Linked DNA regions of Homo sapiens. The protein of the gene in region 2 interacts with the protein of the main gene of each other region in a biochemical or structural test. Each region holds a gene or a part of one and is shown on either strand. Other genes may lie near its edges. The genes, in order: ENAH, PFN1, ESR1 and WASL.

Region 1 (7,742 bases), on a different chromosome or scaffold from region 2:
CTGACAACACTCCTGCAGCAAACTCATCTTCAACAGGAGCAAATTTTATTTCCTTTTCTGAGTACACACTGCTAACAAATGTATAGGCCAATGTGATGGCTCTGTACTGTACACCTAGGGCTTGGAGCAGGCCTCCTACTGTGATATTAAGCAGGGGTGGCTGGGCGCGGTGGCCCATGCCTGTAATTCCAGCACTTTGGGAGGCCGTAGCGGGTAGATCACCTGAGGTGAGGGGTTAGAGACCTGCCTGGCCAACATGTTAAAACCTGTCTCTACTAAAAATATGAAAATTAGCTGGGTGTGGTGGCGGGCGCCTGTAATCCCAGCTACTGGGGAGGCTAAGGCAGGAGAACCCCTCGAACCTGGGAGGAGGCTGCAGTGAGCAGGGCTCTCACCACTGCACTCCAGCCTGGGCAACAGAGCAAGAGTCGGTCGAAAAAAAAAAAAAGCATGGGTAAAAGTTTATCTAAGAGAAAGTTGAGGTCTATATACTTGATGTTAACAACAGAGTATATTTCTTTTGATGAATAGTTTTTAATTAGAGAAGTCATTCACTCATTTATTCATTCACCTTTTAAATACCTAGGTGCCTACATGATGGGCCAGCCATTGGGCCTTGGGCCAGCAACCCTTATGAGAGAAGAGTTCAAATGATTTCCACTATTCAGCCAAGCCAACACAATCTCAGCTAATTTTTAGTTTTTAATTTTAATTGTTTAGAGACAGGTTCTGTCTCTCAGGCTGGAGTGCAGTGGCTGGATCATAGCTCACTGCAGCCTCGAATCCCTGGGCTCAAACAATCTTCTTGCCTCAGCCTCCTGAGCAGCTGAGACCACAGGGGCGTGCTACAATACCTGGCTCATATTTTTTTTCTTTGAGACGGAGTCTCGCTCTGTCTCCCAGGCTGGAGTACAGTGGCACAATCTCAGCTCACTGCAACCTCTGCCTCCCAGGCTGGAGTACAGTGGCACAATCTCGGCTCACTGCAACCTCTGCCTCCCGGGTTCAAGTGAATCTCCTGCCTCAGCCTCTGGAGTAGCTGGGATTACAGGCACCTGCCACCACACCTGGCTAATTTTTTGTATTTTTAATATAGATGGGGTTTCACCATGTTGGCCAGGCTGGTCTCAAACTCCTGACCTAGTGATCCGCCTGCCTCAGCCTCCCAAAGTGCTGGGATTACAGGTATGAGCCACCGTACCTGGCTACCTGGCTAATTTTTTAAAAATTTTGTAGAAATGGGGTCTTGCCATGTTGCCCAGGCTGGTCTTGAACTCCTGGGCTCAAGTGATCTGCTGCCTCAGCCTCCCAAAGTGCTGGGTTTACAAACCTGAGCCATCATGCCAGGCCCAGACCTAATTTTTAAGCAGAGTTTATGAGAAGAGAATCAGCTTTAATTTTTATTGCCTTAGTGCACTCTCATCCCATAAGAAGGTAGTTTGATATAGTCGAAGGAACAATGGACCAAGATTTGGAAATCCTGAGTTTAAGTTGTGGGCAAGTTACTTAACCTCTCTGGGTCTCACATTTCTTTTCTGAAAAATGAGTGGGCTGGACCGAAGATTCCTTCCATCTCTAAAATTCTTTTATTCTATATGGTAACACATTCCACAGCATTTCCTTTGTGACCAGAATTAGTCTGTGACTTCCTACCTCAAGTATCGCTTTGCACTCTTTGAATGTTAAACCAAATATGAACAAGAAGCAATAACATTTTGTCACAGCCAACAAATTGCCCTTCCACAGAATGACCTTTGGGGGTCAGGCCACCCATTGCAATATCTAAATCCAAAAGGCAATGAATGCTATGACCAACTTGTGAGCTGGCAGGCTGCCATCCAAAAGGATGGAAATGGTTGTAGGCAGCCAAAATTCTTGGCTGGTACATTTTTAATAAACATAGAAAATAAGAACAGCATTTTCCACTTGGATTGCTTAATTTGGTGCCCATACCATTGGAACATTTGCTGTTAGAATAAAGATGATGTGATATATCACTTATTTAGCGCAGGATGGATTAACTTTCACAAATGAGAAGTAGGTTATGGAGTCATCTGTAAGGAATTTTTATCCTTGTTTCTTGTGTCTGGCAGGAGATAGCTTGAGTCATTACAGCACTCTCTCCACCCCTTTTGGCCCTTTGTAAGAGTTTTCCCTGAAACATAAGCTCTGTCGGATTTACTGTATTGCTATGAATGGACTAAGGCAAATTGGTGTGACTTCTCTGTGGTCGAATATGTTTTATTAATACTTTTCCAAGATGGTTCAATATGTCTTAATTTTTCCAAGAAAAAACTCTCCACAGCACATGTTCAAATACTTGAGGTATGTGTTTCAAACTACAGGGAGAAACTTACGTAAGACAATGACCCTCATAGTTGGTAGCTATGATTTTTAATCATGCCTGTTGCACTAATTGATCCAGTTACTTGAGCTCTATGTTTCCCTGTCTCTACTTGCAATATGGCAACTAGAACATTTGACTGGCAAGTTTGTTTTCTCTCCAGTGGTTGGAGATCCTTGAATAAAATGCCCTCTGTAATGGTAAGCTGTAATTAGATATGTGGGTGGAAATTAGCGTTCTTCAAGTACACCATGTTTAAGGCAGAGGCATCATGCTTTCTACTACCTGAGGCCACCTTGATCCTCTGCCATAGCTCCGGGTCACTGCTTCTATAGGGCTGTTGGTCTAAGGCTGCCGGTTCCAAAAAGAAAATAACTCGGTATTGAGCTCTGAAACCAGGAATTTTATTTATTTATTTATTTATTTATTTATTTATTTATTTTTTAGATGGAGTCTCGCTCTGTCACCTAGGCTGGAGTGCAGTGGTGTGATCTGAGCTCACTACAACCTCCTCTTCCCGGGTTCAAGCGATTCTCTTGACTCAGCTGGGATTACAGGCGTGCACCACCACGCCCGGCTGTTTTTTTATTTTTTATTTTTAGTAGAGACAGGGTTTCGCCATGTTGGCCAGGCTGGTCTGGAACTCCTGACCTCAGATGATTCGCCTGCCTCAGCCTCCCGAAGTGCTGAGATGACAGGCGTGAGCCACCGCACCCGGCTGAAACCAGGAAGCTTTTTTTATGGTTAAAAATGGGCTACACAGTTCAATTATAGACAAATCAGGCATTGACCACGGATCACTATAACCTGTCTTTTCATTTGGAAGTGTACATTATCCCAACCTTCCTAACTATCTTTTGAATGGTACCTGCATCTTAAAACAAAACACCAAAACTTTTGAATGGATTCCTGGAGTCATGGTAGGTCCTCCATTTTGGATGAGATCCTTCAGCAATAGGATCCCTGTAGCAACAACCCTTTTCTATCCTCCTCACCTTTTATACAGAAAGTACATCCCTGTCTTCCGGACTAAAAGGGGGCCGTAATTCGTACAGTTAAAAATTTTATTATTGGATTTGTTTTTAGATTTAAAAAAAACCGAAAACAAAACCTTCAACAACGATCAATTCTGGCTTCCTGGATGCCCTCCTCCCCGACTTGACTTGAAATGAAATTGCCTCGCCAGTATTTTATATCTACTTTTTAAGGGAGGTGACTTCAAGACCATTGGGAATGACGAAAAATTTAAAATTATCATTAGTTCCTCTCTCTCCCCGCCCCCTGCCCGGGATTCCCTCTTTGCTAATGACGCTGGAAAGCGGCTCCACTGGCTGCGTTTCTCTTCTTCCACTCTTGCGGCAACACACTGTTCCGCGCGCGTCTCCCGGCGACTGCGTTTCCCCGAGAGTCGGCTGCGTTCGTTTGGGGATGAAGTCATCCCTATACCTAGTGTGCACATCAACTCGTTCCATCGGCGCAGCACGCTGGGATTCCTCGGGAAGAAAAGGAGCGAAGGGAACAATGATGACCATATTTTCCATTTATATGCCCCTCCTCAACTCCGCAGGAATCGCTGGGCGCAGCCGCGGCGAGGGCGGGCAGTTGGGCTGACCGGGATGCCCCCCGATTCCCTCATCCCCGTCCTGAGACCGCAACAGGGCGGGCTGAGCACTCGCCCCGCGCGAGGGCACCCGGCCGCGAGCCGACCCGGAGTCTCCTGGCCCGGCCCTGTGCCCAGTCACGCGTCCAAGCTCCCCACGCCGGTGCCTACGGGTCTGGCGCCCAGGAGGTCTCGGCGCCTCGGTCTCCGCACCGTGGCCGTGGGGGAGGCCTCGGAGCTCCCCAAGCCTCTGGGGAGCGGGAGGCGACGGGGAGGGGGCCGACGGTCAAGGACAACCACGGGCGAGGAACCCCGGCCGACAACTGGCCGGAGGTGTTGGGCGGGAGGGGGGGGTGGTGGCCCGCCCGAATCCCAGAGGGGTGCAGGGGGCGGGGTAGGGAGGCAACAAAGAGCCTCTCTCCGCCGCCGCCGCCGTCGCGCTCGCTCTCTCCCAGCCTCGCTCTCCGCAGTCCGGCGGGGGCCCGGCCGCCGGCGCGGGGGAGTGCGCCCGGCCCCCCGCCTCCCCTTTCCTCCCCTCCCCCCGCACCGCCCCCTCGCCCCCGGGGGAAGGAGGGGAGGAGGGCGGCGCCTGCGTGTTCCTCCGCCGCGCGCCCCGCCTCCTCCCGGGTTCCTCGCGGCGATCCCGACTCTCCTCCCGCGGCTGCAGCAGCTGCCGGTTGCACACGGCCTCGGCGGCGGCGCGGCGAGCGCGGGCCTGTGGAGCGGCGGCCGGGCGCGCGGCCCCGGCGGGCACCCCTCAGAGGGCGGCCGAGGAAGCTCCGGGAGGAGGAGCAGGACCACGAGGAGGTGGGAGGCGGCGGCCGCCTGGGGACCAGCTCCGCGCCTCGGCCTCTCCGCCCCCTCCCCAGCCTTTCTCTCGCCCTCTTCTCCCACACTCCCGGCCGGCGCCTCGGCTTTGTGCGAGGAGATGGTGTAGCCCCCTGGCCGCCGAAGGAGGAGCCGGACACTTGTCTCCCGTCTCCGAGCTGCTCCCCACCCCTGGAGGAGAGACCCCCCCCTCGGCTCGGCGCCTTCTGCGTCTCCCGGCTGGTGGGGAAGCCTCTGCGCCGCCGGCACCATGAGGTGAGGGGCGCGCGGGGCGGGGGCCGGGCGGGCCATTGTGCCGCGGGAGCCGCGACCCCCGTTCTCCTCGGACCCCGCCTTCCCTCTCCCGGCCCGGCGCGTCTCCCCTGGTCTCCGGTCTGTTCCTCCCCCCTCCGCCTTTTGTCCCTTCCAATTTCTCTTTCTTTCTTGGAAACCTCCCCAACCCGTGTGGTTTGGGGGTCTCGCTTCATCGTTCTCTCATTTTTCCTCAAATGCTCTTCTTTCACCCAGGATTTCCCTTCCTAAATTTAATTTGCGCCTGGCTCCCTCCCCCAAGCCTTTGCAAGCGAAACCCGGGAGATGGGGAGGGGTTCGAGAATCGAAGCGTGCGTGTTGCTGGGAAACAGGTATTTTTTCGTATATATGTAAAAATTTCATGCACTTTTGCCTCCGAACTCTCGTGTTTAATTAAAAAAGGAAGAAAAGTTTGAAAGGTCTGAAATCTCTGCGGGTAATAAAGTGCCTCTGGTAGGGGTAGGTGAAGGAGCTGTGAAAGGTGAAATTTCACGATGGTGGGGGAAGGGAAAGAATTGATTAGGTTCACGTGGTGGGGGCAGTAAAAGACTGGGATAAGTAAGTTGGTAGGGGTGTGTAAGCGGGGGCGGGGAAGGGATCTGTTTGGAAAAGCCTTTTCTCCCCTTTCTCTGTAGCAGCCTGTGTTGCATTGCAGCAGCTGCTTTTTCCCTTTGCTCTGTACTCAATAAAACAGGAGCTAAATTATTTTTGCGGCCCCGAAGAATTGAATGTACTGTCGTAAAATATTTTTTTAATTGATACGATGAAACATATGGTATGATATTTTTCTTTATTGTTTCTCAAATTGTGTAGGAGAATAAACCGTGATGTGGTGTGTCATTCATTGGAGATTTTTTTTCCAGCCTTTCCTAAACCTGTTCTGTGTCCATAACCTTCTCTTTTCGGATTGGTGCAAGACTTCGTGTGAAATGGGACTTGGTAGACTGAAGGCTGATCCATTCTGCGTTATCATCCTTAAAGGCCTTCCTTTTGGGTTAAACAATTGTGGATAAAGTAAATTACTCCATTTCTCTCTCCTGGAAGAGATAGTCTTACAGTTCATTTGGATTTGAATCTCCTTTGTGTTAAAGATTAATGGCCAACCGTTGCTAAGACCTTTATAATGTAATACAATGAGATTTGAATGATATAATCTACAAATTCCTTCGCTTTGGCAAGAAAATGTCATGTCATTGGAATTCTTTCTCAATTTCGGTAGTTTCCATTTTAAACTTTGCTTTTCATTTTTTTTTTCTATCAAGGTTAAACGTGTTTCCATTTTGCTTTTATATATATATTGTGATATATCTTTGTTGAATTTTTACTTAGGCTTACTGTGAATTTGAATTTTTTTTTCTGATTCCAAGTTACCTGTATTTATGATGGCCTTAAAGAGTGAGTTTAATGTGGTGTCTCTAGGCGACTGACCCCTTTTCCCTTGATGATTTCACACAAGTTATTTTCAAATATAAGCGATGAGTTTAAATAGTAATTATAGCATACGAACCAAAAAACACAATCTTTGTAAAATATGGCTTGAAAACTTTGAGTCGTATGTTTGAGCATGACTTCTTTTTTTTTAAATCAAGTTACTGATGTCCTTAAACTCAGGAACTATAATATACATACTGTTATATCTTGTAATATTATATGTTGTTGGTTTCTGTTTTAGAGATCTAATGCCGTAGGGATCTTGCAGACCAGAAGTTATCAGTTGTTTCAAACTTTGGGTAAACTTATCTTAACATTGAGAAATATAAAACAGGGAAAGTTTTTTTTTTTTTTTTTTTTTTTTTTTTTTAAATGCAGTCTTGCTCTCTTGCCCAGGCTGGAGTGCAGTGGCGCGGTCTCGGCTCACTGCAACCTCCGCCTCCTGGGTTCAAGCGATTCTCCTGCCTCAGCCTCCCAAGTAGCTGGGATTACAGGCGGGTATCACCACGCCCGGCTAATTTTTTGTATTTTTAGTAGAGACGGGGTTTCACCATGTTAGCCAGGATGGTCTCCAACTCCGGACCTCGTGATCCACCAGCTTCGGCCTCCCAAAGTGCTGGGATTACAGGCGTGAGCCACGGTGCCTGGCCGAAAGTGGGTTATTTTTAAATAAAAACAGGAATAGTTGTCTAATTCAAAGATTGTGAACTAAAAAAAAGTTACCGTTTTGGGTATTCAGTGAAGTTTAATCACTGTCATGTATAGATGTCAGTCTGTCACAGGTAAATTATGTCTTCACTTGAAAATTCCTTTTCTAATAAAAAGTAACTTCTGTTTTTCAAGCTCTTTTCTTGCTCTGTTCCTTATGAAGTGTAGAGAGAGAGGAACCACGCTGATGTTTTCCAGTAACGTAAATATAGAACTTGGTACACAGGTCTGAAAAGTTTATTTAAGCAGTCTACAGTAATTCTTCGTAGGCTAATTTTGAATAAGAGCAGGAAAGAGGGTCAGCTTTTCACTTTGGAAGGTACTGGATTATTTGGCAGGTGGTTAGGTAGTACTTAGATTTGCTTAGATACCTGTAAAAGTGAGATTGGTATGGGATAAAACGTTCTTGTGCTGCTTGCAAAAGTCTTTGGAATATTCTTTGGGATATTTTGGTGCTTAGGAAGTGCTTTTCAGGTTATATTAATATATGCTTAGTCTTCATGCTTTCAAGTCCTGTGGGACGTTAATGTTAGTCTTTTA
Region 2 (8,129 bases):
CTTCCCACCTCCTTTGGTTCCTTAGCCCCAGCTCCCCTTGTTTTTCCTGGGCCTTCAACAGATCCCCCACTGTCCCCTCCCTCTTCCCCTGTTATCCTGGTCTAATAACCCCCCACACATACACCTCTGGTGACCTATTTGCACAGACCGTCGTCTTCCCTCCAGTCTTCTGAGGGATAGGGGACATTCCATCCCAAGCTTCTCCCTTACCCACACCTATCCTTTTGAGGGGCTTTGGGGTGGAGCTGGGGCAAGCAGAGGGACTGGGTCTTCACTTCTTGGGCTAATAAAATTGTTTCTTTGTGGACTAAGGAAGGGTAAGATCATTCTCACACAGGTGAACTTAACCCTTTGGTGGAATCACCCCTTTAGCCATAAGGAGCAAGGGAATGCTGAGAGACACTAACCTATAGTCATGGGGACAGCCCCAGCCGGCATTTGCTATGACTCAGAAGGGGGAGCCCCACCCACAAGGATGACTCAACTAGCCCTGCCTTGCCTGCAGGCCTGCACCCATTCTCTGGTCCAGATGGCTCTATTCCATCATCCACCAATTTGACCAGCACACTGAGGACTTAGGCCTGGAAATGCCACTGTGGAGGGGCAGGGCCACCTGGCCAGAAGCTCAAATTCCTGCACCTTGTAGTACCTCAACCTCCCTGCTCCCAAGCCACGATAAAGGAGGCAAGTCACAGTGCCTATCCCCCATTCTGACACCCAAGCTCAAATCACACAGCACCTTGTTAGTAGAATCTTTTTTATTCAGAAAAAAAAAACCCCAAAAAACAAAAGTTTTCCAACCACACACGGGAGGGATATGGGTAGGGGGAGGTGTCTGTCCATCCAGCCCTGGCCCCCAGCCCATGTGGTTTTGGCAGCAATAAGGGGTATGGGGTAATGGCCCAAAAAATAAAATGGTTTGTGTGTGTATGGGGAGGAAAGGGGTGCAAAGCTGTGGGGAGCGGTGAAGGGGAAGGGACAGACGAGGTCAGTACTGGGAACGCCGAAGGTGGGAGGCCATTTCATAACATTTCTTGTTGATCAAACCACCGTGGACACCTTCTTTGCCCATCAGCAGGACTAGCGCTGGAGGAGGAGGAAAGAGAAAGGAGGCTAGGATCCAGGTGTCACAATTCCACCCCCTGCCAGCTGTTCAGCAGCTGTCCAGCCCTGGGGGCTGTAACCCAACCTCATCTCTCCCAACCCGCCCCCCCACCACACACAGGCAGGCTGTCAGTCACCCTGAAACAATAAGGCTTTTCAAAAGAGGAAAATCAAGCTTAAACGCTGGAGAGGAACAGACTAAAAACTTAGGGGTCAAAGGCTCATAGACTGTTGATTCATGTGTTCAGGCTAGAAAGGGCTGTGGATGTGCATGCCACCTCCAGGTTCTAACAAAAGAACTCAAACGATGAACTCGATGATTCAAGACCCCAACAATCTACCTATACTCCTAGAAAACAGTTTCTAATCCGAGCTCAAGGCAGTAAGTAATTTAAGAGGTAATGCAGTTCAGCAACTTCGAATTACAAGATGAGGAACTGAGACAGAATGGAGGGACTATCCCGTGTTCCAGCATCCAGCAGACAAGGAACACAATACTGGTCTGACTCCCTTCATGTTGGGGAATCACACAAAAAAGCACCCTCAAGATTACCAGAAGGCGGTACATTAGAGATCTTGGAGCTAAAGGAAGGGTAAGACTCAGGAACTCACTCTTGTCAGTCTTGGTGACAGTGACATTGAAGGTGGGGGCCCCACCGGTGCTCTTGGTACGAAGATCCATGCTAAATTCCCCATCCTGCAGCAGTGAGTCCCGGATCACCGAACATTTCTGGCCCCCAAGTGTCAGCCCATTCACGTAAAAACTTGACCGGTCTTTGCCAACCAGGACACCCACCTCAGCTGGCTGGAAGAGGAACCAAGCGCCCATCAAGTTAGTCAGTGCACCAAGATTCCCACCGTGTTCTCCAAAGACCCACCTGTCTTCCACTTCTGAGAACCACCCCGCCGTGGGGGCTAAGTATAAATTATATACTCAGTACACATCAATGAACTGTGAGAAACTCTGAGGACTGTGGGACGTTAGTGCAGAAAAAGATCATGATTCTGAAACTTAGAATATGGAACCAGGGAGGAAGGGATGACATACTCCTCTAGAGATTTAGATGTCAGTGTTAATGGGGAAAGTAAACCCAGGAAATAAAGGGAGTCAGTGAGGTAAGTGAGGAGCCTTTGGATGCTCAGAACTCTCCTTCAGGAAAAGCAGAAGCGGAGAGGGGAAGGGAGGGGGGCGGGCGAGGCAAGAGAAGCAACTTTGCCCTTATTTGGTCAAAGGTTCTGCAGGAGCTGTTAGGGCCCGGACGCCTGGGTCTCCAAGTAACCTAGAGTTTAGCTCCAGGTATCTCTGCTCTGAGATGAGGAAGCAGACCCCTGGGGGCTTTCCGGGAAAGTTGGAAAACTTTTGAAGGTGGACAGGGGCCAGACCCGGCAGGCCAGCTCTCGGGTCTAGGTACCCCGGGAACCTTTCCCCCCTCCCCCTTTCACCCCAAGCCCCCACATCCGGTCCCCTCCCGCCCGGAAACCCCCTTCCCCCCCCTTTTGAACTTCCGCTCCCCCTCCCCACTTCCGGGCAGTGTGGACAGGGAGATGGTGGTGGGAGCAGCGGTAGTAAACCAATATACTTTCGCTTATGCTGTCTCAGAACTTCTCACAAAGTTCCCCTGCTCCAGGCCCCGCCGGATGGCGGGAAGGGAGGGCGAGGGGACTTCCGGGATTGGCCTCGCAGGAATGTTGAATCCAACGTGCTGAGCTGGGGGGGCGTGTGGTGGCCTCGCCCTCTCTAACGGAGTTAGGAGGGGCCAGAAGCCCACAGAGGGTGGGCAAGGGACCAAGACCACGCGCCTGGGGCTCCCTTCCGCACCAGGAGAAACAATGGTAGAGGGACGCGGGCTGGCAGCCGGACGGGGAGCTGGGGGTCCAAGGATCCCCGGGTCCCCTCTCAATCCCAATCCCCAGTAAAAACTGAGGCGCGTCCCCGCCCCGCCCTGGGAGAGGCGGAAGTGGGCCGCCGCACCGGGCGCCGCGCCCCTCCCCGCCCTGTGCCCCGGATGTAACGCCCCGTCGCGGAAAGCGGGGTAGCGGGCGGGATGGGCGCCGCCGCCTGGGGCATAGGACCTACGGGCAACTGAGGGACCCACTCACGTGCAGCCGCCATTCGCGCCGCTTCCAGGGCAAGCACCCAGTCAGGGCCTCTCGCTGCGCGCCCTAGACCGCGCCCGCCCCCACCCAAGTCCCTCCCTCAGGGTCCAAACCGGAGCAGTGCCCCGGACCGCGCAGGCCTCGCAGTACCGTGATGTTGACGAACGTTTTCCCGGGGACGGCGGCCCAGACGGAGGGCGAGTCCTTGTAGCCCACGATGGCCGCGTCCTGACAGGTCCCGTCCGCCATGAGGTTGTCGATGTAGGCGTTCCACCCGGCCATGGCGCTGCTACTGGGGCTGCTCTCGGCGCTGCTGCTGGGGCCGCGGACTGGGCTCGAGCTGCCTCGGCTGGCGGGCGGGGGGAGGCGGAGAGCTCGGGGCACGCGCTGCCGTCCGGACCGCGGCTCCGCTCGCTGTGCAGCAGCCCTCGCACCGCCACTTCCTGCTCCTCCCCCCCCCCGCCCCGCTAGATTTTTATTTGCAAAGGACGGTAGGGGCGGGGCCTACTCCCCATTCCCTCCCTCCCCCACTCGCCAGCCCAGACACCGAACTTTGCAAATGCAATTTTAAAAATCCCTCCCCCTATTGCAAAATTTGCAGAGTTCGATGGAAAGCAATGCAGAAGGATGGGGGGTGGCGGGAGAGAGGTGAAGGGTAGGGTTTGCTCCAATTTGCACTGAATATAAACCAGACTTTGGTATCGGGGCAGGGAGTGAGCCAGAAGAAGGAAGGAAGGAGAAAGCAGGAGGAATTAGCAAGCTGCAAATTTAGCAAATTAAGGAGAGTTCGGGGAGCCCAGGGTTAAACGGGATGACTCCTCCTTCCCCCACCTCCGCCGAAGGGAAGGACCGGCGGGCGGCGGCGCGTGTGCCCGCGCCTGCGCCTGCGCCGGGGCCGGGAGTGCATGGGGCGGTCGGGGCCGGAGCCGGCTGCACGGGAGCGCGCCCGGCCCGACCCGTGTGGACCCTGCGGGAAAGGAAGGCGGGCTGGGGACGTGTCTCCCGCCTGGCGGAAGGGGCGGGGGCGAAGCCGTGCGCGCTGCCGCCTCACCACCCTTGATTTTACTTATTCAAGTAATAAGAAAGCAAAGAAGAGTTTGGCCAAATCCTCTAGTCGCTCTCATAGCTGAAGGCACCCACCGGGGCCACTTCTGTCCCCAGCGTCTTCTCGGGTCGTGCAGGTTGGGTTCACCAGGGCCCATTCTCAGTCTAGAGGATTGTCCCTTCTCTGGATCGGCTCTAGCCCAGGGCCTCACCCCACATCCCAGCCCCGCCCGCCCCAGGCAGGCAATGTCTGGATCACCGGCCGTGCCCCTTGGCCTGTGTCTGCAGAGGTCACAGAGCGCGGACACCCGCGGGGCTTAACAGGCGGGGCTATTTTTCGAGGCGGAAGAATACTCAAGTTGCAAGAGTGGCAACTTTTTCAAGAAGGGGAAAGTCCCACTTCGGGCCCTTTGGGTTTCTTCGCAGTCAGATGTGCGCTCACAGCCACCTGGGGAGGGCGGGACGGGCGGGACGGCCGTGCGGCGGCCGCGGTGAAACCGCCTCCTCCGACCCGCCGCCGAGGGCTGGGCGGCTTCCGGAGCCTGGGCTAGGGGCAAGGGGTCACCGAGCGCGGCCCGGGCGGAAAGGGGGTTGGTTTTCTCTCTCCTCCCGAGCGCGGCGCGCATCCCTGGCGTCCACGCCGAATCCCACAGTCCCCGACGCCCCTCGAGTCCGTGTTCCTCGACAGCCGCGCGGCTGAGTCACTGGCGGGCTCGGGCGGGGCCGCACCCGGGCACGTGGCGGCGCTCCCCGCCCGCCATCTCCTGACCCCTGGCCCACCGCACCCCTACCCCAGGGTGGAAAAATCCCGGGAGGAGCGGCCTGAGATGAGGGGGCGGGGCGAGAGGGGAGACTGGACGGGTGGCGGGGCAGGTGGCCTGGGGTGGGGGCTGGGAGGCCGCGCGGGCCGGCGGGGCGGGGAGCAGGGGTGGGGAGAGGGCGGCGGGGGTGAGTCACCGGGCGCGCGCTGCCCCGGCGCCGACGGGAAGGGCCTCCGAGTCGGGCCGAGGCGCCGTGTGTCCCCCGCCGGTCGGCTGGTATGGCTGCAGAGGAGCTCGGGGCAGACCCCGCACTGGCCCCAGAGCCGGCAAAGTGGAGATCTCTACCGAGGGCAGAGACCTACCTCCCCGCAGTGCTACAAGTGGGGCGCCGGAAGAGCCCCAGGCGTGCAGAAGCTCACAAAAGGCCACCCGTCCTCGGTCCATTCATTTTTGTTCACTGTTGATTCAGCCCCATTCATTGATGGGCTGGGGCCGTGCGCTGAGCGCCCACAGTCGATGGGGAAAGGGGCTCTGACCGACAGTCCCCACGCCGGGCGACAAGTGCTGTCCCAGCGTTATCAGTCGGGCGCCTTGCCAGCCGAAAGGGCCTGTCTAAATTCGTTTCCTGTCCCCTAACTCATCCCGGCGCTGGCTGGCCTGGAGAGGGTAGGATGGGGCGGCGCCGAGAATGGCCGTTATGAGGACCCTAAGAGGTGAGACCCTCTCGCCTTCTGGGGTGGGGGGTCCCGTCCTTTCCCCCACTGAGGACAGAGGCCCGCCCAGCGATCTGAGCATGTGTGGACGTCAATCTTGCAGCCCCTCTTCCAGGCCCCCTCCCCAGCCTTGCAGGGCTCAGGTTACCCCTGGCCTTTCCTAAAGGTCACTCATTCCTCTTGACGTTTGCAAAAGGGGAATGTAATCCTGGGGTGGGGGGAGACCCCTCATCTGTAGCCCCTCCCTTGCTCCTCCCAAAGGGTGGAATTAGAACAGGGACTGTTATTGGGAGACAGAAAGTGGGGGATAGTAGTTGACCTTTGGTAAGGGGGCAGGTGCCCAGGGCCAGAGGCTTCTGCTTCAGGCTGTAGTGGGCACTTGGCTGCCAGCCCAGTGTGAAGGGGGGAGGATGGAGAGAAAGAGAGGCGGGGCTGGCTGGGGACCGAGTGGCTCAGGGATAAATGCGCAGCCTGAGAGGGGGTGAGCTGACACTGTCCCAGCTGCCACCTAGACTCGGAGCTCCATCCAAACCTCCAGCGAAGACATCCCAGGTCGGGTGAATCTTCCAGCCCTGGGGGTGGAGGTAGTAAAGGGTGAGCATGGTATTGGCTTGGAGGAAGTGGGGGACATTTCTGCTTTTTTTCCTCCTGGGACTGGAGATGCTTGAAAAAGCTGGGGGAAGGGGCGGCTGGAGCAAGCAGATGGGACAAACTCTGGGAACACCGAAGGATCTAGGGAAAGGAGGCTGTGAGGAGGGCAGCAGGGATGGATAGAAAAGGGCAGCTAGAGCTGGAACCTGATAGGGAATTGGGGGCCCAAGGAGATTTCGGAGCAGGAAAATGAGAACCAGAAAGGATTTGAAGGCCACCAGCCATGGAGAACAGACTGCTTGACCAGAGGGGTGGAAGGAGAAGGCCTAAGTGGAGGCTTGGGGGAGGTGGGGGCTTGGTGAGCGGTGGCATCCCAGGAGCTATAGATAAGAGGCCCCTGGATTCTTAGGATGGGAGGGTGGAATAAGAGCTGTTCTGAGTGGGGGAGGGGGCTGCGCCTGCCTCTTTGGTCTGTGACCTTTTTGTAGGGTATTTTTAGCTCCAGCACCTGCCTTCTTGGAGTGGGGAAGAATCTTAAAGGGCAAGGGATTTCTGGTTCCTTAAGAGATCAACTGTCTACACTCACTCACACCTCCTGTCCTGCAGCCATGGCCATGCAGAAAATCTTTGCCCGGGAAATCTTGGACTCCAGGGGCAACCCCACGGTGGAGGTGGACCTGCACACGGCCAAGGGTAACACAAGGCCCATTGGATAGGCTCGCCTCCGAAGACCCCAACCCTTTGGCCTTTGCCCCCCAGTTCTGTGCCATATCCTCTCCTTTCTCTCGGGTTCCCTTTCCCAGACTTCTTCCCAAGCCCCCTTCTTCCAACGTGGAACCAGAGCTGGAAGCTAGGAGAAGCAGGAGTCTCTCTCTGCACTGCCTCCTGTCCCTGAGCTCAGAGAGGACACCTCAGCCCTTTGAGAGGTAGAGAGACTCCCTGTGAGGTCCTTTTTTTTGTTTTGTTTTGTTTTGAGATGGAGTCTCGCTCTGTGGCCCGGGCTGGAGTGCAGTGGTGCAATCTCAGCTCACTGCAACCTCTGCCTCCCGGGTTTAAGTGATTCTTGTGCCTCAGCCTCCCAAGTAGCTGGGATTACAGGCCTGTGCCATCACGCCCAGCTAATTTTTTTTTTTTTTTTTTGAGATGGAGTCTCACTCTGTCGCCCAGGCTGGAGTGCAGTGGCGCGATCTAGGCTCACTGCAAGCTCCGCCTCCCGGGTTCACGCCATTCTCCTGCCTCAGCCTCCCGAGTAGCTGGGACTACAGCTAATTTTTTGTATTTTTAGTAGAGATGGGGTTTCACGGTGTCAGCCAGGATTGTCTCGATCTCCTGATCTCGTGATCCGCCCGCCTTGGCCTCCCAAAGTGCTGGGATTACAGGCGTGAGCCACCGCGCCCGGCCTCAGCTAATTTTTGTATTTTTAGCAGAGACGGTTTCGCCATGTTAGCCAGGCTGGTCTTGAACTCCTGATCTCAAGTGATCCACCTGCCTAGGCCTCTCAAAGTGCTGGGATTACAGGCATGGGCCACCGCGCCCAGCCATCCCTGTGATCTTCCAATTCCTCCTGTCCCAGGCCGATTCCGAGCAGCTGTGCCCAGTGGGGCTTCCACGGGTATCTATGAGGCTCTGGAACTAAGAGACGGAGACAAAGGCCGCTACCTGGGGAAAGGTGAGGAGACACCAGCGCAGAAGGAGCCTGTGTGGGCGGCTTTAGGACATGGGTGCACAATGGGTAGAGGACTGGAACCCCCAAGGCTCTTGAGGAGCTGGGGTCCACAGAAAGGGGCCCAGTTGATTGAGCTCCAAAACTCATCCTCTG
Region 3 (7,700 bases), on a different chromosome or scaffold from region 2:
GGTGCCTGTAGTCCCAGCTACTCAGGAGGCTGAGGCAGGAGAATGGCGTGAACCTGGGAGGCGGGGCTTGCAGTGGGCCGAGATCCCGCCACTGCACTCCAGCCTGGGTGACACAGCGAGACTCCATCTTAAAAAAAAAACAAAAAAAAACAAAAACAAAAAAAAAACCACCTTTGGGGGGAAATTATCAAATAAAACAAACTCTTTTTAGAATTTTACAACTTTTATGTTAGGAAAAAACAAATACATTTGTGAAAAGCTTAAAATCCAGTAAATGACTTGAGGGACTTGGGGCAATCCTAGGGTGATGAGGAGCAGGTTAGTAACAGTGAAGGACTTAGCACCCCAGGGGGCCAGAGGCTGTAATATACCTTATGAGCAAGTCATTCTTATTTAGTCTTGCCCATTAAGAAGTCTACTTGGACTAAATGCTTTTAAAAATGCCCTTTTAATTTACTATTAAAAGAATATTCCTAGCAGAAGTAGTCTTGGATGCTAAATTCTATTTTAAGAATAACTAAAATTAGAATTCTGTTCTTTTTATAACACCTGTTACACACACACCCCTACCTAGTGTGTCGGAATCAGTTTGTATGGGCTCACCAAAGCCTACTGTTCAATTTTCAGGAGTTTTGTAAGCCATTTGATGTCAGACAAGTGGCCTGAAGTTTGTTATGGTGGTGGTATTTACACCATGAAAATTGGCATGTTATGGTGGTAGTATTTACACCATGAAAACTGCTACAAATAGAAATCTTTTTCTTCTTCTCTTGGAGAGCCACTTGTTGAACACTTACCAGCTCACCTGTGCTTGAAAGTATTTCTTCAAATAAAATGAAAGCTGGTTAGCTTTGAAAATTTTTTGTATAAAAGTTTACACGGGAAAAAAATAAACTAATTTTTTTTTCCACCTGTGTTTTCAGGGATACGAAAAGACCGAAGAGGAGGGAGAATGTTGAAACACAAGCGCCAGAGAGATGATGGGGAGGGCAGGGGTGAAGTGGGGTCTGCTGGAGACATGAGAGCTGCCAACCTTTGGCCAAGCCCGCTCATGATCAAACGCTCTAAGAAGAACAGCCTGGCCTTGTCCCTGACGGCCGACCAGATGGTCAGTGCCTTGTTGGATGCTGAGCCCCCGATACTCTATTCCGAGTATGATCCTACCAGACCCTTCAGTGAAGCTTCGATGATGGGCTTACTGACCAACCTGGCAGACAGGGAGCTGGTTCACATGATCAACTGGGCGAAGAGGGTGCCAGGTAAGAATGCGAAGCGCAGCTTTTAAGAGTCAATAGCTTTTCAAGAACTTGTTGTGATGTCATGGGAGAAATAGTGGGGGAAAAAGAAGCAATAACATGTTATGTAATTGGTTTCAAGGTTACAGGAGATGTGTTCATTTTCAGTATCAATACACTGTAATTTTCCAGGAGATTAGGAAATAATATTTTTAAATCAGAATCTAGAAGACTGAAATTCTTAAATTGACATAATTTATTTTTAACCCATCTCATTTACCAAAAAGATTTAGGGTGGACACTACATGGTAAAACTATTTAATAGTGTATGTTCACAGTAGCAGAAACTTTTAACACTAAATGAACTACAAAAGTTTGTAATATTAATGACCTTTGTTGAAAACATCTCAATTATTAATCAAACGATTTTATCTTAAAAAGATTTTTAAGATTCGGTGTGGTGGCTCGTGCCTGTAATCCTAGCACTTTTTGGGGCTGAGGTGGGAGGATTGCTTGAGCCCAGGAGCTTGAGGCCATCCGGGGCAACGTGGCGAAACCCTGTCTCTACAACAAATTTTTAAAAATTAGCTGGATGCAGTGGCACACACCTGTGGTCCCAGTTATGGGGGAGGCCGAGGTGAGAGGATGGCTTGAGTCCAGGAGGTCAAAGCTACAGTGAACCATGTTTGTGTGGAGTGCCACTGCACTCCAGCCCAGGTGACAGAGCAAGACCGTGTCATAAAAAATAAACCACACAAAAAAAGAGAAAGATCTTTATGGATTAAAAAGATAATAATAAGTGTATTTACTGAATGCCAATTATTTATCCAACCTGGTGTATGCTTAGTGTTTTAGGAGAAAGAGAAAGGCAATGGAAAAATAAATTAAGGTATCATCCCTGAAAGAAACTTTTAGAAAGACACAGTGGCTGAAGTGATACCTTGTTCCTTCAGTTGATTCTCTCAGAACTGGTGTTCTGGTAAAATTGGACTGTTACTCCTGTTATTCAGGGAGAAGAACTCAAGTTTGTATGGCAACAAGACTAGAAAATGACTTTCTCCCTGCCCCAGTGTATTCGTTCAGGAGCTAATGTAGATAAACCGAGGCAAGAAGAAGCTAAATTTTTTTTCTGGGCTTATAGGTTAAATGAGTGATAGATTTAGTTGGAGGTTTTCTCATTTGGTTTCTTTTAATAGATGAAATTAATTGTTTCCTATGAAGCATGAAATGTTTTATATGAAACTAAAAAAATGTGGAGTTTGTACTTGCATTTCAAGGGTCACTGCTCTGTTATAGGCCAAGTGAACTTATGTCTGGCCTTAGAGAATCTTACATGTATTTGCATCTATCAGTATATAAACATGTGGGCCGTAGAATAAGGAGCCAGCAGTACCAGAACCCAGCCTTGTTAGAGGCCACCATTTTGGTGGTTGAGTGGTTATTAGTTTACATGGAAGCATGGAGAATAATAGGCAAATGTAGGTTTTCAGTGTCAGTCGAACTGGCAAACAAAAATTTCTGGTCATCTTCAGAATGAAAAGTTTTCTTGAGTACCTACATATTTTAGCATTTTCATATGAAGCAGATACATTATAAGTTAATTGTTGGAATCTAATTGTAATATGGCTGTAAGTTTTTTCTTTATATTTGTTATTGCCTTGTTCTTATATTATAGGGAAAGAGAAACAAACAAACAAGCAAAGAAACTAATGGTCATATATTTGAGAGCCAACTCTTGGTTGCTGTTCAGTTTTATTTTCCTGTAAACATATATTTTCCCTTATGAAATCTTGGGAATATTAGCTCTGGAGCACTGCTGAACTCAAGTACAGACATTTTCATGTGTATCAGTAGATTCCCATCATGACATTTTTATAATAATGTTGAAGAGCATTTTAAACAACTGGAATTAAGCTCAAATACATTACCAGTGGTTGAAGAATTCACATCAATAATCTTCTGAATTTAGGAATAAAATGGAGAAGTCAAGGAAAGGAAAATATTATACACAGGCTAGCAATAGTTAAAATACAATTATTAAAGCCAGAGCTAGACAAAATTATGGCAATGAGATGTGTAACAAAACCACTCTGTAACTTCATCATGTTCGTTTAAAAGACCTGAATGATTCCAAAATCCTTAGACCAATAAACTATGTCTTCTTACTTGATAATTAAAAAAAAGAATTATAAAGGCAAAAATGAAATTATATGTATGTGTGTTTGTGTGTGTTCCATGGGAATACAGCTGTTGTAAATCAAAGGCCTACTTGCCTGACCAAGCAGAATAAAAATAGTCATTGATTTTAAAGAGACTAAAAGTGAGGGAAGAAAAAAGTCTTCTGCAAAAGCTCTACAGATGGTTGTCAAACTTTTCAGAAAAATAGACAAAGCAACATTTTGAAAAGGATTTATATCTTTTATATATTCAAATACCATCTGTTATTTAAAAAACATAGCCCACACTGAATATCTGATATAGACAATATAACGTTTATGAGATAATAGTTTGAGAATGACAATAATAATAGTAAGTTTTAAAAGAGGAAATAAGCCGGGCACAGTGGCTCATGCCTGTAATCCCAGCACTTTGGGAGGCCGAGGCGGGTGGATCACCTGAGGTCAGGAGTTCAAGACCAGCCTGGCCAACATGACAAAACCCTGTCTCTACAAAACAGTACAAAAATTAGCCAGGCTTGGTGGCACACATCCATAGTCCCAGGTACTTGGGATGTTGAGGTGGGAGAATTGCTTGAACCTGGGAGGCAGAGACTGCAGTGAGCCGAGACCCCACAACTGCACTCCGGCCTGGGCAACAATGAGACTCTGTCTCTAAATAAATAAATAAAGAAGGAAATAGTAAATGTCATTAGTAAGAAGAATAGCAAAATTTCAGTTCTAGAAATACCCAGAATTAGCTATATGATACAAAAACCCTCATGAAACATTTGGATAATCCTCAGAATACCTATCAATATAACAAAAACTATGAATTGACTTCATTTTGAATGATGAATTTTTAACAAAAATAGTCAATACTTTGGGCTTAGTAGCTCTAGAAGTGCTTCTTTCTTCTTTCTTTTAATTAACAGAATATTGTCAGAATTTTCAAATGTTGATGATTATAAGTTGAATTTTCCTTTTCATTAACCCCTGGGGCTTATTTTTTGACTTGATATGTTTCTCTACTCAGAATTAAGATGTGAAGAGCTTTGGGATAGAATGCATCATACAAGTGTGAGAGTCAAGTTCCAATCCATAAAGTACTTCTGGTAGACCTGGATAAAGATGACCTTAAGAAATGATTTTTTTTCTCTTTGCAGTTTAAAAACAACAGTAGCAACAAGAATGATAAAACCTATGAAGCCAGCTCTGACAAAAGATGTTTTTTTTATAACACATACTATGTATCTACTTTTTGATATTTATCTATCGAGAAGACTTTTCTCCTTATTGTTTGCTCTGAAATTTGTTTATATTTAATAGGAATTTTATAGCCTTATCCCTGGGTAGAAATTCAGTTTTTTTAAAAGTAGATAATTAAATCTTAATTTACTATTATTTTACACATGGTGAAACTAGTCAATAAATGTAATATCATTGAGCTGAAGGTTAAAAAGGAAAAAATATGACTGCAAGAGTGGTTGTATTTTTGATTTCAGCATCACACTCAATTGCATCATTGAGTGGTTCATTCTTAGTTTCAGTGTTAATGAAATACATCTGAGTTTTTTTCCCCAGAAGCTTGAATTGTGTCACCAAAGTGTCATTTTGATTTATTGAAAGTTAAGCCCTTTCCAAAATTCACCATAATTTTACATGTCTCGAAAGCAATTTTATACTTCAAGTCTGTGCTATAGTTCTATATATTTTATGAAGATTTGGATAGATATCTAGCCCTGAGTTTTTTATTGCCTGTTAAATACTTATAACCCAAAGTGTAGCAGCCTCATGAACTGCTGCTGGGCACAGATCTGGGAGAGTGCACTCAGAGTGTTGGCCCAGGAAGAGGAAAAGAGGAAAAGGGGCAGTTCAGTGGCAGCTTGGCTTCCTGTGAAACATGTCACCTTAACCACTTCCTCATTCTTTTAGTGGCAAACTAGACGACCTTCTCCTTCCCCTTTCCTGCCGAGTCCCCCTCTAATCAACACTCTAGAAGGCCCCTCTTCCTCCTCAGTCCTGACTCCCTGTCATTTACTTCAGGTTGCCTCCTTGCTCAGTTTTGGCCCCAGGGGTAGGCAATCTCCTCTTTCTGGACATGTCTCCCACCAGCCCCAAGTTCAGATTTCTTGGAAGTTTCTGTGTTGTCTCGAGGATGCATGGTTGTGTGAGTTATTCCAGGGCTCAAGGCCTCTTCTGTGTCTGTATTCCCCAGGAATCCAGGAATTCACTTCTCTGCCTCTCATCCTCATCCTCATCATTAAAATGAGCAGATTTGAGCTCAGGAAGTGCTTGAATAAATGAATAAATGAACAAATGAAAGGTGATTTTTGAAAGTCTTAATTTTAAGAAGTCTCTGAGCCCTGTTACAGCTCAATTTTCCCATAAACTAGAACTGCTCTCTAAGGCTGTGACATTTCTCCTTTTTCCTCTCCTCAAAATCTACCTGCTGTTCTGATATCTCCCTGACAGCCACCATAGTGAGATTCTATTTCCATTTCCAATCTCTCTTTTGTAAGGGACAGAGAAACAGCTAGAGAAATATGGAGCCATGCGCTCTGAGGACTTTAGCAGGCTTCAACTCTATCTGCAAGTGAGTTTCACTTAGCGAATGAAATTGGAAACTTAAAGTGGGTAGGGATGAGGGTTCCCGGAGAAGGTGTAATACCTCAGTCTGGGAATTGGGAGCATCTACAAGGAACACACTCAATTCTGGGAGGTTCCTGTAGATTTCAGAGATTTAGCAGGGCTTCCCAGCACTCTGCTTCCCAACCTGTCATTGGACCAGTAAACCCTGCTCTCAAACTGTTGTGGTGTCCAGCATGCTTTGGCAAGGTAATGAAAGATAACATGACATGGACATATGGGTGACATCCTGGAGAGATGACAGAAGCCTCTGTTTAAGGACAAGATTTGCCATTTAGATTTTGCACCCACTGTATAATAAGAGCCTTAGGATTGGGCTGGAATCGCCCTAGCAGGCATGATGGCAGCCCCTCTGGACTGGCAATATGCAGCTTTTTTGCAAGTGTTCCATGTCCAAGTCACCCCACCCAGCTTTCTACTGCTCCCGTGGAAGCTCTGGTGAAACGCAAGGAAAGCAGCTGCTGTTGACTGGATTTTTCTTTCACATGAAACTTTGAAGCCTCATAGATGCTTATTGGCCTGGATGCTATTAAACCTTTAAAAATCCCTTTCTCATCTTGAGAGTATTTGAGAAACATGTCTGGGGCATTTTGCCCACCCTCCTCCAGGTTCTGTGTCAGTGAGTGATATGGTTTGCCTGTGTCCCCACCCAAATTTCATCTTGAATTCCCATCTGTTGTAGGAGAGACCCATGGCAGGTAGTTGAATCATGGGAGCAGGTCTTTCCCATGTTCCTGTGATAGTGAGTAAGTCTCAAGAGATCTGATGGTGTTAAAAAGGGGAGTTTTTCTGCACAAGCTCTTCTTCTCTTGTCTGCCACCATGTGAGATGTGCCTTCCACCTTCTGCCATGATTGTGAGGCCTCCCCAGCCACAATGGAACTGTAAGTCCATTAAGCCTCTTTCTTTTGTAAATTGCCTACTCTGGGATGTGTCTTTATGAGCAGTGTGAAAACAGACTAATACAGTGAGTCTGGGTCAGTGTGTGTTTATGTTGAACGTAGTGGACTTGTGGTGTCCCCAGGGCACCCTGTGGGGAATGTTGGCCTGTGGCTTTGCTACTTCCAGGGGGATTTGGCATGGAGAATGTGTGTTTTAAGTAATAGATAGATTATGATTGAAGTGTGTTATGGGCTGAGTTGTCTCTCCTCAAAAAGACATGTTAAAGTCCTAACCCCCAGTATCTCAGAATCTGACCTTCTTTGGAAATAGTGCCTTTATATAGGTAATCAACTTCAAGTGAAGTCATTAGCACAAGCCCTAATCCAATAAGGACTGGCATTCTAATGAAAGGGGAAATTTAGACATAGAAACAGACATGCACAGAAGAAGATGATATGAAGAGACACAGGAAGAGGACGGTCATGTGACTGGAGTGCTGGGTCTGCAAGCTGAGAAATGCCAAGGTTTACTGGCTAACATCGGAAACTAGAAGGGGCAAGAGTGGACTCTCCCCCTCAGAGAGAGTATGGCCTTGATTTCAGACTTCTAGCCTCCAGAACTGTGAGGCGTACATTTCTGTTGTTTTTGAAGCCACCTAGTTTTTGATACTTTGTATGGGAGCCCTAGGAAATTAATACAAAGTGTATTAAAAATAGAATTTTCTTCTATTGTATTTTTGAGGCAAAAGAAATAAGGAGCTATTGATTTAAGGAGGAAGG
Region 4 (7,700 bases), on a different chromosome or scaffold from region 2:
GCCAATTAAATATTGCCAATTTTTTCTTCACGTTTCTGGTATCTAGCCTTGGAATGACAACTAGATTTCATCTATCGTGAACCTGGACAATTGGTAGTGGTTGCCTCTAGGAATACAACAGGTAGTTAGAAACCATGTCTGAACTCAGTAGGAAAAAATGCTGTGATTGTTGGTGTCTGCCATGGACACATACATCAAGGACTTAGTCCTTTTTTTTGCTATACATCAGGGGTGTCCAATCTTTTGGTTTCCCTGGGCCACATTGGAAGAAGAAGAATTGTCTTGAGTCACACACAAAATACGGTAACACCAATGATAGGTGATGAGCAAAACAAAAACAAAAAACTGCAAAAAAAAAACCCAAAATCTCAAACTGTTTTAAGAAAGTTTATGAATTTGGATTGGGCCACCTTCAAAGCCATCCTGGGCCGCAGGTTGGACAAGCTTGCTCTAGAAGCTGCCACAATTCCAGGTTTCTTAGTCAGATCTGATGTGCTGAACTAATAAATAAGAAATTTAGTAAACAATAAAGTATTACTCAATCCTTATTTCTATTATGAATAATAATTTCCAATTTTCTTTCTCCAGATCCTTCCTATCTTGAAATTTCTTGAAGAAATCTTAGTGTTTCCTTACTTTCTAGGGAATAAAGTTCAATCCTTAAGACTTGAAGTTCAAAGGTCTTCCAAAATCTAGCCTCAATTTACTCTTCAAACTTACCATCCACTATCTGCCCAAGCAAATGTCATTCTCAATTCTAGCCAACCAGTCTCCTCAATGCCTCCTAAAATTCTATACACATTTTCTATCCCAAACTTTTGTTTACACATTTCCTGATATAAACACTCCCCAACTAATGATGGTTCCACTTACAATTTTTCAGCTTTACAATGGTGCGAAAGCAATATGCATTCAGTAGAAACCATACTTTGAGTACCCATGCAACCATTTAGTTTTGTACTTTCAGTACAGTATTCAACAAATTATGTAAAATATTCAACACTTTATTATAAAATGGGCTTTGTGTTACATCAGGTTGCCCAACTGTAGGTTATTGTAAATGTTCTGAGCACATTTAAGGAAGGCTAGGCTAAGCTATAATGTTTGGTGGGTTAGGTGTGTTAAATGCATTTTTGACTACAACATTTTCAACTTACGACAGGTTTATCAGGACATAATCCATCATAAGTAGAAGAGCATCTGTACCTGATAAGCTGCTTGTTTCTGACATCAATTCTCTAGGCTATTTAAGGTTTTTCATATTCAAGTCCCACAATGATATACCTATCTCTCCTCTCTATTATTCAAATCTTTTATACATTTATATATGTGTGTGTGTGTGTGTGTGTGTGTGTGTGTGTGTGTGTATATATATATATATATGCTGGTTTGCAGCATATATCTTTTTGTGCATAATTTTTGTCTTCTTCAGCTATACAGTGAATAACTGAGGGGTAAAACCTGGATTTTCCTTACTGCTCCCTCATATTCCAAGATACTGGGAGGGTGTTATGTGCTTAGTAAGTCCTCAAGACTTGACTACGTTTCACTAATAAAAATCATTTCAGTTTCTAGCTAGTTTATGCATCAGTTTATGTATTAGTAAAGGAGTTGATTGATAAGACATATATATCTCATACATATGTCAGATATATCTCATATATTATCTTTTATATATATATCTTTCATTTGATCACATTTTCTTGAGGGGCTTTTCTGTATTTACCTCTTCAACATTACAGTCAATTATTTGGTCTCTTTAAAAAAAGGGTTACAATTCCTCTACAGTGCATTAACTCCTATGAGAAAATAATGTTTTCTAATTAGTTTTACTCTCCTATATGCTATTATATCAGTATAACTCTCGAATACTTCTGAGACTACTAACATAGATGCAATAAATAAGATTTATTTTGTATTACACTATATTTATGAATATGGTTAAGCATGCCAAATGTCTCCTAATTACTAAATACTTAATACAGCAGGTCCTCAAATAACATCCTTTTGTTCAACATCATTTTGTTCAATGTCCTTTCATCATAACTTTTTTTTTTGTTTTTAAGAGACCAGGTCTTCCTATGTTGCCCAGGCTGGAGTGCAATGCCCTCATCATGGCTTACTGCATCCTTGAATTCCTGGGCTCAAGTGAACCTCCTGCCTCAGCCTCTGGAGTAACTGGGACTACAGACATGGGCCACCACTACCAGCTACTTTTTCTTGTAGAGATTAGGTCTATGTTGCCCACGCTGGTGGCAAACTACTGGCCTCAAGTGATCTTCCTGCCTCAGCCTCCCAAAGCGCTGCGATTAAAGGTGTGAACCACCACGTCCAGCCCATTATTAACTTTGATGAGAAAAGAAAATCATTTTCAAGCTGGGGTCACTGTCTGTGTGGAGTTTGCAGGTACTCCCCATGTCTATTGGGTTCTCTGGGTACTTGGATTTCCTCCCACATCCCAAAAATGTGCATGTTAGGTTCACTGGTCTGTCTACATTATCCCAGGATGAGCAAGTGTGCGAGTGAGTTGTGGGTGTAGGTATGAGTGCACCCTGCGATGGGATGATGTCCTGTCCAGGGTTGGTTCTTGCCTTGTACCCTGAGCTGCCAGGATAGGCTCCAGCCACCTGAGACTGAAGTGAAGTAACTGGGTAAATAATTATCTTGTTTTTATTACTCTTTCTTAAATGTGTTACAGCTCACATTTATTTCATTAATTAATATTAGAAGTGTTTTTGTCTTTATTTAGAAGTTTGGTGATATATGCTACAGAAACTTAGCTCTTGTTTATATCAATTACCCTATGGTAAAACTGGTTTCATTATGTGTTGTTTCACCTAAAGTCACAGTTTCCAAGAATCCATCAACGATGCTAGGTGACCTATAAGAATTATATTTATAGTTAACAATGTATATCCTATTACTGTGACTATGAATGTATAAACTTTTGTTTCTAGAACCTTTAGAGTAAGAGTGAACTCTATTAGGAAAGCTATGACTTCTAGACAGAATAAATTATAACAAAGTTCAACCCTTATCTGCTCTTTTAAAATCTGTTTTTCTACTCAAAACTAGAATGGGCTACCATTATACTTCCATTAATATTATTTATTTAAAAAATCTATAGAATATGGACAAAAGTGAAATACATGAGATTACTACAAGCATGCATTTCCTTAGGAAAGTTTTGCTCTTACCAGTTTTTATAAAGACTTTTTAAAAATCTTACTATAGAAGACTAGAATACTGATACACATGGTAGGAATTGCTCAGCAGCAAAACAAATAGAACCCGGCTCCTCTGTACTTTGGCCAACGCTTAAGTAGCTCCAATTCTATATGTTATGAGGAATCCTGAATGTCCTAATCAAACCTGCTCTCTAATCAAGACTTTATTTCCAGACTTTATAATCTGATATTACTCATAGATACAATTTTTACATTAAAAGATAACTTTTTAAAAAAATAGTATATTTTAAATAAAATCCCTACAACTGTCCACAACAGAGAGATGGCCAAAGAGTGACTGGCAGAACTTGGTGAAAGAGACACTGTTCAAAAGGCCCAGTCACATCTTTTCCTCAAGAGCTGTGCTTTCTAATATCCAGAGCACAGCAAGAACAGAAGTTGAATAAGCAAGAAAGACAGTAAAAGATAAAACCCAGCCCTTTGCATCTTAAAAGCATGCCTAATTTTGGCATTCATTTGGGTTTCAGAAAAGTTCTGTCAAAGGTTCTAGTGTCTCTTGGTATGCTGTTTCAGGAATACAAAATTCACTAATATAATAAGCCATAATTTCAGCATGTTGTCCAGTGCATTACAAAAAAATTTAAGAAAACCAAGATTATTTTAATCACACAAATGAATCCCCACAGTAACCTCAATCTTGAATCAGTCTCTAAAGTAACCAAGTCAATTCACTATAACTATTAAGTCTACCACTGAAACTAAAAACCGATTTTTTTAATATTGGAAAATAAGCAGTAACATGTAACACCTATCATATCACTAATACAATTTCATCCAGAATTAGGATTCTAGATGGAATTGGTTAACAAAAGAGAAATTCTTAAAAATAATTCCATCTTAACCAAAAAAGCAGTTTCTAATAACCCAAAAATACATTATAATTACAAATAATAATTCTAAGTTAGCTAAGAGTTGGTAATTCTACTACTAATGCTTTTTTATTCTGTTCACTCTGCTGTTTTAAAAGTGAAATGCCTATTAAATTACAATGCTTAGAAAAAGGTGAATTAAAAATGGGAATTTTCAATGAAATAATTCAGGATTATCTACCTTCTGCTTAGATATATGCTATATTAGTCTCGGCTGTGCAAAACACATATATGCTAGAGTTAACATTAGGCCTGTTCTTTCCCTGCTAGAGTCCCTGGAATCTAGAATAGTTAAACTGATTAAGCATTAAAGCTGGAAAGACTGTGGAGTTATCTTGTCTGACCCTTCATTTTCAAATTAGAAAAGTGAAGTTCAGGAAGGGAGAAATGGCCAGGCACAGTGGCTCACACCTGTAATCCCAGCACTTTGGGAGGTTGAAGCGGACAGATCACCTGAGGTCAGGAGTTCGAGACCAGCCTGGCCAGCATGGTGAAACCCTGTCTGTACTAAAAATACAAAAATTAGCCAGGGGTAGTGGCACACGCCTGTAGTTCCAGCTACTTGGGAGGCTGAGGGAGGAGAATAACTTGAACCTGGGAGGCCGAGGTTGCAGTGAGCCGAGATCGTGCCACTGCACTCCCGCCTTGGCGACAAAGCAAGACTCTGTCTCAAAAAAAAAAAAAAAAAAAATTCCTGTTCATATTCACAATGTATGGTAGCAGAGCATGGACTAAAATTCAGGAACTCCTAACTTTTTCATCAGGACCCCTTTCTTCCTCTTCAATTAGCAGCCAGGGAGGCTCAGGCTGCCCAGACACTCCCCAAAGAGATACATTCAAGCTGCTCCTTAACTTTTAATTTACACACCTATAATTAACTGACTTTAAAATTGTTAATTTACCTAAGTCAAAACAAATACAATATAGAGCTGAAAATTTTACTCTAAATCCTCCCTGCCAGTAACAGGAAATCTAAACTGAGCACTGAATAGTATTCATAACAACTTTCTTTCATATGCTCCTCCAAACTCCCAGAATACTTTGTGTCATGGACTCTAAGTATTTTCCATAATGATTGAATTACTCTTTGAAATCCTTGACTAAGCCCATTTTACAAATCTAGACATGAAGGCTGAGACTAGTTAAGAAATGTCCCTGTATTATATATATAGAGCTAAGAATAACCAGAAGTAAAATTCATAACCCAACCCTGTTGGACTTTTCTGAATCTCTTCTTGTGCTTACAGCTACGCTGCGTCACATACATTTTTGTGCTCATCTTTTTCCTCTATACTAGACAAAGGTATCTTCTCATCTTTGTATATTCCAAATCCAGTGAATTTTAACTTTTATCTTTCCTTACTACTCAAGGTGAAATACATTCCCGGTCTAAACTTTCCACCAACAGTGCCTTACTCAGGCCATCATCAATACAATGATCCCTCTAAGCATATCCTTCCCTGTATGCCTATGTAAGAATCCCTACCCAACAGGTCTGATTTAGAACACAAACAAACTACTGTTAGACAACTGTTACCACCTATATTAGTTCAGCAGCACAACTAAACCATTTCGGTCGCTTAATAAATGAAGACTAAAGTCCAGATACCATGTGCATTAGAAACTGAAGGGCTTAACAACCTAATCAAGCAATAAGAAACGCAGAATGAGCTCCTAAAAAATAAACGAGTAATTATAATTATTCAATCAATCAATAAGTATTCACTGATCTGGGAGCCAGAAGTTACAAAAATTATAGAAGACTACCTAGGCATAAAGTCTATCTCCAAGAATTATATATAGTGAGGAAACAAAAAACTAAAGAAAATAAGCAAGTTAAAACAAGTGCTGAGGAGTTAAAGGAAATAAAGATTAAGGTTGATTAATAAAAATGGCTTAAGTATCACTAAATCTTGAAAAAACAAACCAGGTGAGTATGGCAGGGAAAGATAATGCTCAATAACATTATCAGCCCCAATCCATATAAACCAGATATGGCTGTAGAGACGTAGTTTAATGTTTTATTTTTTCCTATTCCTTAGTTTCTCACTTATTCAGGACTATATATGTTGAACTTCACTTAGCAAAACTGCACATACTCTTTATATAAAATTAACTGAATCACACTACATGAAAGGCAACAGATCTAACTACAAAATAAGACCTAGTAATCTTGTTTATAACCTTCTCATTCTCCCTTCATAATACTACCAGCTAATGAATGGCATCAGAACTATTTATGTAAAAGTACATATCATGTATTTATGTATTACAATGAAATCTCAATTTCCACAAAATGAATTTTTAGAAACTGTGGTAAAACAAAAGATTTACTGATGATCTGCCTCCTCCATGAAGCCAATCACCAATCCAGAGTCTCATTAACATTTAGGCATATTTGCAGCGAATGAGAATAAAAATATGTTTCTGTGTACTTTTTCTGCTGGTGGTTATAATGCCTGCCTTTATTGAAACTCCCTTCCCTCACCTTCTATATATAACTGGGACTAATTTCTGCTGGAGACTTTAATTGTTCTTGAATTCCCAAAGTACTCTCTTAATTCAGGCCCTCATCATATTTCACCTGCAATACTATAAATCAACTATCTGATTTCCCTTGTCTTTCCCTCACAATCCTCAATCCACCTTCTATACTGCCTCCACCTTTCCCCTGAAAATTTTCTAAGTCAAATATGATCTTGTGAGTCCCCATTAAATAGTGCAATACTTCCCCAACTGTATCTCCTTCTTAGTTGTGAAATGTACACTGGTATCTTCAGCGGTGAGAGAAATGCTGTACTAAAAGAATTTGGTTTAACTTAATTTAGCTTCAATTTGCAAAATATAGACCAAAAATTGAAGAAAAATCTATTAAGATTTCCAATGTGCTCAAGGATTATCCTATCAGACAACGTGGACTTTAGCAGTGGTTTTCAAACTGTGATATACTTTAGAATTTTCTGTCAAGCTTGCTAAAAATAGACATGTCCAAGCTTCACCTCAGATCCAGTGATTCTGAGTAATATCTAGGAATTGGGCCTAGGCATATGCATTTCTCATAATCTCCACAATGATTCCAATTCATACCTAAATCTGAGAGCCCAAGCAGAAGCCCTCCTTGCTCCCTAACAAACCTAACAAACTTATTAGTAGGTCTCCTAACTTTTCAAGCTGTTTCATACCTCTCATCAGCCTAGGGAGTACCTGTTTAAATATAAATAATCAGTTATCCATTTTAAAAAGCTTTTAATCATCCTCTCTCCCACCATTCTCTCCTTTAATCCCCTAAACCTTTATAAAAATAGTTTCCATATATTTATACACAGTCTTAATCCACACAACTACCCCATGAGATAGTATCCTTGTTTTACAGATGAGAAAACCAAATCTAGGATAGGAAGCTCAAGAAACTTGTCCAAAGTGACCCCCAGTTTGAACCCACATTTGCTGTTACAAAGCCAAGGCATTTTCTACTGTGAAAAGCAGCCTCTTACACATCACTCTGAAGCACTGACTTATCAGTTTACACGTTTCCCTTTTTAGACCTAGTAAGCTCCCTGAGGACAAGTATCAGCCCTTCCAG

The links.
Region 1: the proteins of PFN1 (region 2) and ENAH form a complex in vitro, tested with the Homo sapiens proteins (one study listed by BioGRID).
Region 3: the proteins of PFN1 (region 2) and ESR1 form a complex in vitro, tested with the Homo sapiens proteins (one study listed by BioGRID).
Region 4: the proteins of PFN1 (region 2) and WASL form a complex in vitro, tested with the Homo sapiens proteins (2 studies listed by BioGRID).

Annotation. Positions count from the first base shown.
Region 1 is NC_000001.11:225,649,971-225,657,712, reverse strand, and holds the start of ENAH (protein enabled homolog), read left to right. Parts: upstream 1-4,751; 5' UTR 4,752-5,022; coding exon 5,023-5,027; exon of another isoform or gene 5,028-5,348; coding exon of another isoform or gene 5,349-5,395; intron 5,396-7,742. UniProt on the Homo sapiens protein: Ena/VASP proteins are actin-associated proteins involved in a range of processes dependent on cytoskeleton remodeling and cell polarity such as axon guidance and lamellipodial and filopodial dynamics in migrating cells.
Region 2 is NC_000017.11:4,944,912-4,953,040, forward strand, and holds PFN1 (profilin-1), read right to left. Parts: upstream 3,620-8,129; 5' UTR 3,484-3,619; coding exon 3,352-3,483; intron 1,910-3,351; coding exon 1,717-1,909; coding exon of another isoform or gene 1,496-1,716; exon of another isoform or gene 1,087-1,495; coding exon 989-1,086; 3' UTR 741-988; downstream 1-740. Other genes in the region: E3 ubiquitin-protein ligase RNF167, read left to right, coding at 1-105; ENO3 (beta-enolase), read left to right, coding at 5,695-5,719, 6,917-7,003, 7,884-7,979. UniProt on the Homo sapiens protein: Binds to actin and affects the structure of the cytoskeleton. At high concentrations, profilin prevents the polymerization of actin, whereas it enhances it at low concentrations. By binding to PIP2, it inhibits the formation of IP3 and DG.
Region 3 is NC_000006.12:151,943,250-151,950,949, forward strand, and holds part of ESR1 (estrogen receptor), read left to right. Parts: intron 1-923; coding exon 924-1,259; intron 1,260-7,700.
Region 4 is NC_000007.14:123,738,549-123,746,248, forward strand, and holds part of WASL (actin nucleation-promoting factor WASL), read right to left. Parts: intron 1-7,700. UniProt on the Homo sapiens protein: Regulates actin polymerization by stimulating the actin-nucleating activity of the Arp2/3 complex. Involved in various processes, such as mitosis and cytokinesis, via its role in the regulation of actin polymerization.